Homo sapiens: one gene and its partner. The protein of the gene in region 2 purifies or fractionates together with the protein of the main gene of each other region. This does not show direct contact. Each region holds a gene or a part of one and is shown on either strand. Other genes may lie near its edges. The genes, in order: KIF11 and TBL1X.

The links.
Region 1: the proteins of TBL1X (region 2) and KIF11 fractionate together in Homo sapiens (co-fractionation; one large-scale study listed by BioGRID). This does not show direct contact.

Annotation. Positions count from the first base shown.
Region 1 is NC_000010.11:92,634,524-92,638,347, reverse strand, and holds part of KIF11 (kinesin-like protein KIF11), read right to left. Parts: intron 1,165-3,824; coding exon 1,039-1,164; intron 962-1,038; coding exon 803-961; intron 1-802. UniProt on the Homo sapiens protein: Motor protein required for establishing a bipolar spindle and thus contributing to chromosome congression during mitosis. Required in non-mitotic cells for transport of secretory proteins from the Golgi complex to the cell surface.
Region 2 is NC_000023.11:9,712,947-9,716,770, reverse strand, and holds part of TBL1X (F-box-like/WD repeat-containing protein TBL1X), read right to left. Parts: intron 1,870-3,824; coding exon 1,768-1,869; intron 552-1,767; coding exon 525-551; 3' UTR 1-524. UniProt on the Homo sapiens protein: F-box-like protein involved in the recruitment of the ubiquitin/19S proteasome complex to nuclear receptor-regulated transcription units. Plays an essential role in transcription activation mediated by nuclear receptors.

The DNA of each region.
Region 1 (3,824 bases), on a different chromosome or scaffold from region 2:
TTCTGCAAGATGATCTACATACTATTAGATGCTCACAGGGTCTCAGTTTCCTCATTAAAAATCTGACTAGTAATAGAATTTATATCTATATTGATGGGAGGAATAAACACAGTGAATTGCTCAATAAATGTTAACTATTATAAGAGTTCTGTCATATTATAATAAGCTCATTTAATAAAACTTTAGACAGTCATTATTAAAGTCTTAAGAATACCAGAAGCTGTTTTTCAGATATCTGATATTTACAGATTATGGTTTGAAGGCTTGGTTTTGGTTTAAAGCCTCATATAATGAGGAACAGTTTACAGGGAAGATAAATCATGAATTACATTTATAATCAATAAGAATTAAAAGTTGTATCGATTTACTATGTTTTAAATGTCTATCAGTGAGACAGAAATAAGAGAAAGTAGGACTTGGTTTATGAAAGACAACTATCCATGCCATCCTAGAAACAACTTAGCAGGTTTTAATGTAGATACATTTTCACTTTAAATGTTATAACCATTCTTCTCTAAAGGTATGTTTTTCCAGATTCATCTTTCATCTTGATGTGAGAAAAGGACTGTTTTGTCATATTGTGGTTCTGCATGGGGTTCTAGATGTAGCAAAACTTCAAATATTAAGAGAAGTATTCTCAATTGTTCTACAATAATTACTGTTATAAGCAACAGTGGCTATGGTATTTTCAGGTTTCAGCTTTTACAGTATTCAGATTGTGTAACATAGATTAATTATCAAGTCATATCAAATCATCCTAAAACTCTCTTTCTGTACTCCCCAAGTCCGCTAAACAACATACCTGGGAATGGGTCTGCTTTATTGTCTTCAGGTCTTCAGTTAGGTTTCCACATTGCTTTTGTGACTCAACCAAGGAACAAATGGTATTTTCTTGTAGTTCATGTAGATTGTTACACAGTATACTGAGAAAGCCATCTAGTTCCTTTTTTTGATCTTCTATCTTTGAAGAAACAAAAATGAGTTTCCTTCTTAAACAACACATCAATTTTGAGATATTAAGAACATAGCATTTGTTACCTTATCGGCCACTGTCAATGAAGTCTTGAAAATATGCTTTAGTTGACTATTGATTTTCAGTATAGACACCACAGTTGGGGATAAAATCATTTCCAGTGAACTTAGAAGATCAGTCTTGAGTACATTCTGGTTTCAGAAATAAACAAATAGGTCTTTAAAAAGAATATTTCCACTTCTGTAAACCTTTCTAAATGATATCTTAAATACTTTGGTAGCTAAACATTCACATTAAAATTTACATTTCCATTCTCCATTCTTTTTTTTTTTTTTTTTTTTTGAGACGGAGTCTCATTCTGTCACCCAGGTTGGAGTACAGTGGCAACATCTTGGCTCACTGCAACCTCTGCCTCCTGGGTTCAAGTGATTCTCCTGCCTCAGCCTCCGGAGTAGCTGGGATTATAGGTGTGAGCCACCACACCCAGCTAATTTTTGTATTTTTAGTAGAGATGGGGTTTCGCCATGTTGGCCAGGCTGGTCTGGAACTCCTGACCTCAGGTGATCCGCCCCCCGTGGCCTCCCAAAGTGCTGAGATTACAGGCGTGAGCCACCGCGCCCGGCCCCATTCTCCATTTTTTATACTCTACATAGATAAATCAATACAATAATACAATAATTTATTATATTACAATAAATATAATAATTTCTCTTTTTTCAAGCCCAGTGAAAACACAGAATTTCTTTTTTTCTTTTTTTGAGATATAGTTTCACTCTCGTGGCCCAGGCTGGAGTGCAATGGCGTGATCTTGGCTCACTGCAACCTCCGCCTCCTGGGTTCAAGCGATTCACCTGCCTCAGCCTCCCAAGTAGCTGGGATTACAGGCACCTGCTACCACGCCTAGCTAATGTTTGTATTTCAGTAAAGACAGGGTTTCACCATGTTGGCCAGGCTGGTCTCGAACTCCTGACCTCAAGTGATCCACCCACCTTGGCCTCCCAAAGTGCTGAGATGAGCCACCGCACCCAGCCAGAACTATTTAATAGTTTAATGAAATAGAAGTCAGAAGAATTCAAAAGAGGAAAATGACAGTTAATAAGATTTCAGCACTCCAAACAAAATAAATTTTTAAAAACCTACAGGTATATTTTAAGAAAATAAATTTCAAACAAGTTTAGGTTACCAGTCAAAAAGGCTGAGACCAAGTAGTCATCAAGATTAGCCCTTGGGCTGGAAGTACTTAACTTTGAAGATCTGAGATGACTTACATCCTATTGTATCAGAAGAACTTGTGAAAGATGTTGTTCTTGTCAAGAAATAGGGAAATTAAGAATGTAGTATAGATTGGAAATATTTATAAAAAGAAAAAAAATCCTGATCTAATCTCCTTTTGGTAGGATAGGGCTGAGGAAGTATAACAGAAATACATTAGTAAATACTTATAGGTCTACTGACATTCTTTTGGAAAGAAGAGCTAGCATACCAATTTCAACTAATTTTGTGAGAGCAACATGCCTCTTTTCTTTTAATTCAAGCAAAAATTGTAACTTGGTAAGTAGAAATGTATCAATTCAGGCATAGCTTATTTTATTGTGCTTCACCTTACTATGTGTCACAGATACCAAATTTTTACAAATTGAAGGTTTGTGGCAACCCTACCTTGAGCACGTCTATCAGTGACTTTTTTCAAATATCATGTGCTCACTTTCTGTCTCTGCATCACATGTTGGTAACTACTACAGTATTTCTAACTTTTTCATTATACACTGTGATCAATGATCTTTGATGTTACTATTGTAATTGTCTTGGGGTACCATAAACTGTACCCCTATAAGACAGCAAATGTAACTGATAAACGTTGTGTTCTGATTGTCCCACCAGGCGTGTGCTGGAATTACAGGTGTGAGCCACTGCGCCTGGTCAACATAACCTTTATATGCACCGGGAAAGCAAAAAATTCATGACTTGCTTTATTGTAATATTCACTTTATTGCAGTGGTCTGGAAGCAAACCTGCAATATCTCTGAAGTATGCCTATATATATACAGACCACCATTTAATGAATGAATCAATATTTGAAAAGTTAGTACTGACAGGATATCTTTTAATTTTGTCAAATTTGGGTGATTGAGAAAACCTATCAAATAATGTCATCTAAGCACTGAATTGAGGCAGAGGGTCAGCTAACATTTGTAGTATTTACTTGGAAAATGTTTAATAAATATTGTTAAGCTGAAAAAGGGAGGCAAAGACTCTGCACAAAGAAAACAAATAAATTATATGGCTAAGAACTTCCTAGACCAACCATACAATTATAAAATAAAGACTATATATAAATCAAGTATGAAGGAGGTAATATTAAGTGCAATTAGATGAGTGACTTCCATAGAACTCTGGAGAAAAGATTTATAGTTATGGCCCAGAAGGGGCCACACAGATCTAACCCTAAGAAGTGATATGTGTCCCCAGAATTCTAAGATATTTTTCTTGCACCATTATTACTATCATATATTACTGTAGTTTTAAAATCAGCTACCCAATATCCCCTTCTGGTTGGGTCCAGGACCCCTGGGGAAAGAGTGACTTGCCAATTTCTGGGCCAACTAACAAGTCCCTTGATATCATGTGGTGCTAAACTTGCCCTTTAGTCATTAGAAGCCTCACTAATAACTGCTACTCCTAATGTTACAAGACATGAGTGAAAAAGGTTTCAAAAGTTAGTTCCATACATTTGAAAATAATCTTTCTGGGAGAGAATAAACAGTGGAGAGATCTGTCTTTAAAAATATAAACGTACTCTCGGCCGGGCACGGTGGCTCACGCCTGTAATCCCAGCGCTTTGGGAGGCCGA
Region 2 (3,824 bases):
AAGTGTTGGGATTACAAAGTTGCGCGTTTCATCGGTACAAACTGGTCTTTGAACCTCCTTTGTGAGAGCAATTGTAGTGTCCAAATTGTTAGGGAAAACAAAAAAAAAAAATCCCAAGGAGGAGGGTTTTTCCCCCTTCCCTGTTTGGTTTATCACAGCATTTTGCTTTTTTTTTGGCACAGCTTTTTACGTTTCTTTCCATTCAGCCATCACAGAGCCTGTTCCGGGTGGAAACCAATCCACACGCCTCGAGCTGGTGACTTCCTCCTTCCCAGGCTGAATGTCCTCAGTGGAAACCATTCTATCCCCGTTTGATATGATTTGCTTCTGTTTTTGCTTGCCTTTTAAAAACTTCTTGATGAAGATTACGAAAACATATAGACTCCTGCGGCCAGAGACGAGTTGGTTTCAGAGTACACTCTAACGCAAGTCAAGTTCCTACAGTTTTGGAGAATAGAGCTGCAACCCTACACATTCACGGCTGGTCATTAGAATTCTTTTCTTTTTTCGATAATATTTTGTGGTTACTTCCGCAGATCCAAAACACACACCTGGAAGGAAAGATAAAGCACCTGTCATCTTGAGAGACAATACAAAGATGCCTTTAGAGTGAGAAGTCGGCAAGCTACGGCCCCCACGCCCAATCTAGCCCTCCACCGATGTTTGTCAGTAAAGTTTATTGGAACATCGTCATGAAGGGTCAGAGAAGCTCTCATAACAGACTGGCATCTGGACATCGGACCGAGCAAACTGAAGCAAACAGCACAGAGCAGAAAGGCCAGGTTAAGGGTAATGATAGGAATTAACAGAGTGGCAGAGGTCCCAGAAGGGACACCTGCAATCGTGGGGCAGATGACAATACGAGCCCAAGTACACAGCCTCTGACAACATTTGGGGACTACTCTGACCCTTGGCCGTTCAGCCAGAACGGCCGCTTGCCCCAGAGGTCAGGGCAACCTCAAGTCCAGGGGAAAATAAGAAATCCAGATGCCCCATGGGAAGAGAAGAGGGCCCAGGAGACCTGCAGGATGGCCACCAGAGGCCCGGGCTTCTCAGCCACAGCATGGGTGACAATTGTGGCCACCCTGTGCACAGTAGGAGGTTTAGCAGCATCCTCATCTAAGCACAGTCACGCGTCACATAATGACGTTTCCAGCAACAACGCACCGCACAGACCGCAGTGGTCCTGTAAGATTATAACCATATATCTGCTGAACCTTTTCTATGTTTAGATAGATCCGGACGCACAAATGCTTACCATTGTGTTCTGGTTGCCTACAGGAATCAGTATGGTCACCCGCTGTCCAGGTTTGTAGCCTGGGAGCAATAGGCTGTACCACACAGCCTCGGTGTGGGACAGGTATTATCATCTAGGTTTGTGTCAGTCACTCTATGATGTTCAGACAAAGATAAAAGTGCCTAATGACACATTTCCCAAAACGTTCCCGTCATTAAGCGACACATGACTGTAGTGACAACCTAAAATGGCTCCAGATATTGTCTAATGTCCTTAGAGGTGCAGAATCACCCTGGTTGAGAACCACCAATTTGACTGAGAAAATGTTGACTAGAAGGACACTCTGGAAGGGACAAGGAGAAGGCCATTCCCAGATGTGGTACCAACTCCGATGGGATCCAGCCCAGAAGCTTCCTTTGGCACTGGGCTAGGCCCTTCAGGACACGAATGCTGCACACGCCCTGGAAGCTCACTTAGGCATCAGCTGCCCCCAACACCCCACTCCCCAGCAAACCAGAGGTGTTGCTTACAGAGCCGTCGGACGCGCTGGCACCCACTTTGTCTCCTCGGGCGTTCCAGCACACCTCGAAGATGCCGCCAGTGCCTCGGTAGCTGTGGACAAGATTTCCACTCTGCAAAGCAAAGCAGCTGTCACTTACAACGCAAGGGGCGCCTGCGACAGATGCAGGTGTGGAATGTGCGCTCCTCCGGCCCTGACGTTTCGTCATGAACATTTTCAAGCATGGTGAAATTTAAGGGTTTTCAGTAAGGACTCTGGGGGCCATGGAGATGTGCCTCTAGGACTTCCCACCACGAGGAGTGAACCTGATTACTTATGCCTGCGGAATCTGCCACATTTGCGTGGATTCTGAGGCTGCACCCAGCTGAGGACTGATGGAGGCGGGAGACCATGGCAGTCACCTGCTGAGACTCAGACTCATCTGGTGGGTAAGTGGCTCATGGACTCTCCATCAGCACGACCAAAACTTTCTACAGACCTGTAAGGGCCATCCCTGACTCTTCCTACCCTTCCCGTCTCCTTCCCAGGGTCAGACTGGCCTTATGGTCTGAATTCTCCCTTCCCCCTACCTTCCTCCCTGTTTCCATCACAGCTCTTTCCCCCAATAAATCTCTCGCCCATCTAATCCTGTTCTGGTGTCTGTTCTTTGGAGGACCTGAATGAATACAACATAATGAATACACCCACCCCAGTAGCAATTAAATTGACTGTAATTCATGATTAAATGTAATAATATGCCATGACATTAAAATGTACGTATTTTTGGACATTTGAAAGAAGAAATGCATAATATACATGTAATGGAAAACACCACAGACCATTGGTTTCCGGTTTAAAACAGCATTAACTTGACAAATCTAAGAGGTAGGGGAAGTTGAGGCCTTTGAAAGAGTTGAATAAGGCCAGGCGAGGTGGCTCACCCTGTAATCCCAGCACTTTGGGAGGCCGAGGCGGGAGGACGGATTGAGCCCAAGAGTTCAAGACTAGCCTGGGCAACACAGTGAGACTTCGTCTCTACAAAAATTAATTTTAAAAAATAAAAAAGAGAGAAAGAGTCGAATAAGCCTTCACTCATGATTCACTATGGTGACAGGCAGGAGAAATCTGAACACCGAGACCAGGAGGGCTGTCCCAAATCCTCTGCTCAATTGGGCCCCTTAAAGGGTGGTGTTCCATGAACTGAGAAAGGTGTGTGTCGGCAGTATTACAGATAAGTATTTTTATACTTGGAGAAAGATTAAAGTGGGCTTTAAGATTTCTCTTAAGAAAATTCCTAAGGATTTCTTGGCCGGGCGCGGTGGCTCATGCCTGTAATCCCAGCACTTTGGGAGGCCGAGGTGGGTAGATTGCCTGGGGTCAGGAGTTCAACACCAGCCTGGCCAACATGGTGAGACCCCGTTTGTACTAAAAATACAAAAGTTAGCCGGCTGTGGTGGTGCGCACCTGTAATCCCAGCTACTCGGGAGGCTGAGGCAGGAGAATCGCTCAAACCCGGGAGGCAGAGGTCGCAGTGGGCCGAGATGGCATCACTGTACTCCAGCCTGGGTGACGAGAGTGAAACTCCGATCCAAAAAAAAAAAAAAAAAAGAAAAGTCCTAAGGATTTCTTTGATTTATAAAAAAGGGTTGAAACAGTTCAGTGAGTTCCTGACAACAGGCTGTACCTAACTGATCATGTCATTGTTTTGATAATTGATGTGTTCTTTTTACAAATCCACCCATTACTATTTCTAGCGAGGATTTCAGGAACGGAGACTCTTGGACACTAGTGCTGAGATGCGTGCTTCCCGGAGAGCTATCTAGGGCTGTGGGGCTGGGCTTGGCGTCGGGTTGGCTCTACGCAGGGTCCACCATTTCCCTTCCTTCCCTGAGAGGATGTGGTTCACATGAGGTCCCTGGGAAGCCTGTGATCTCAGTGGACCCCTTGCCAGTGAACAGGGCTCATCACCATTGAGTCCACAGGGGGAATGAACTTGAGGGTATAAATCCACCTGAATGTCAACCAAGCCAAAAGGAACCAAGAAGGCAGTGCAGATGAAAGGGGGCAGGGGGAAGGCTGTGTGATTCC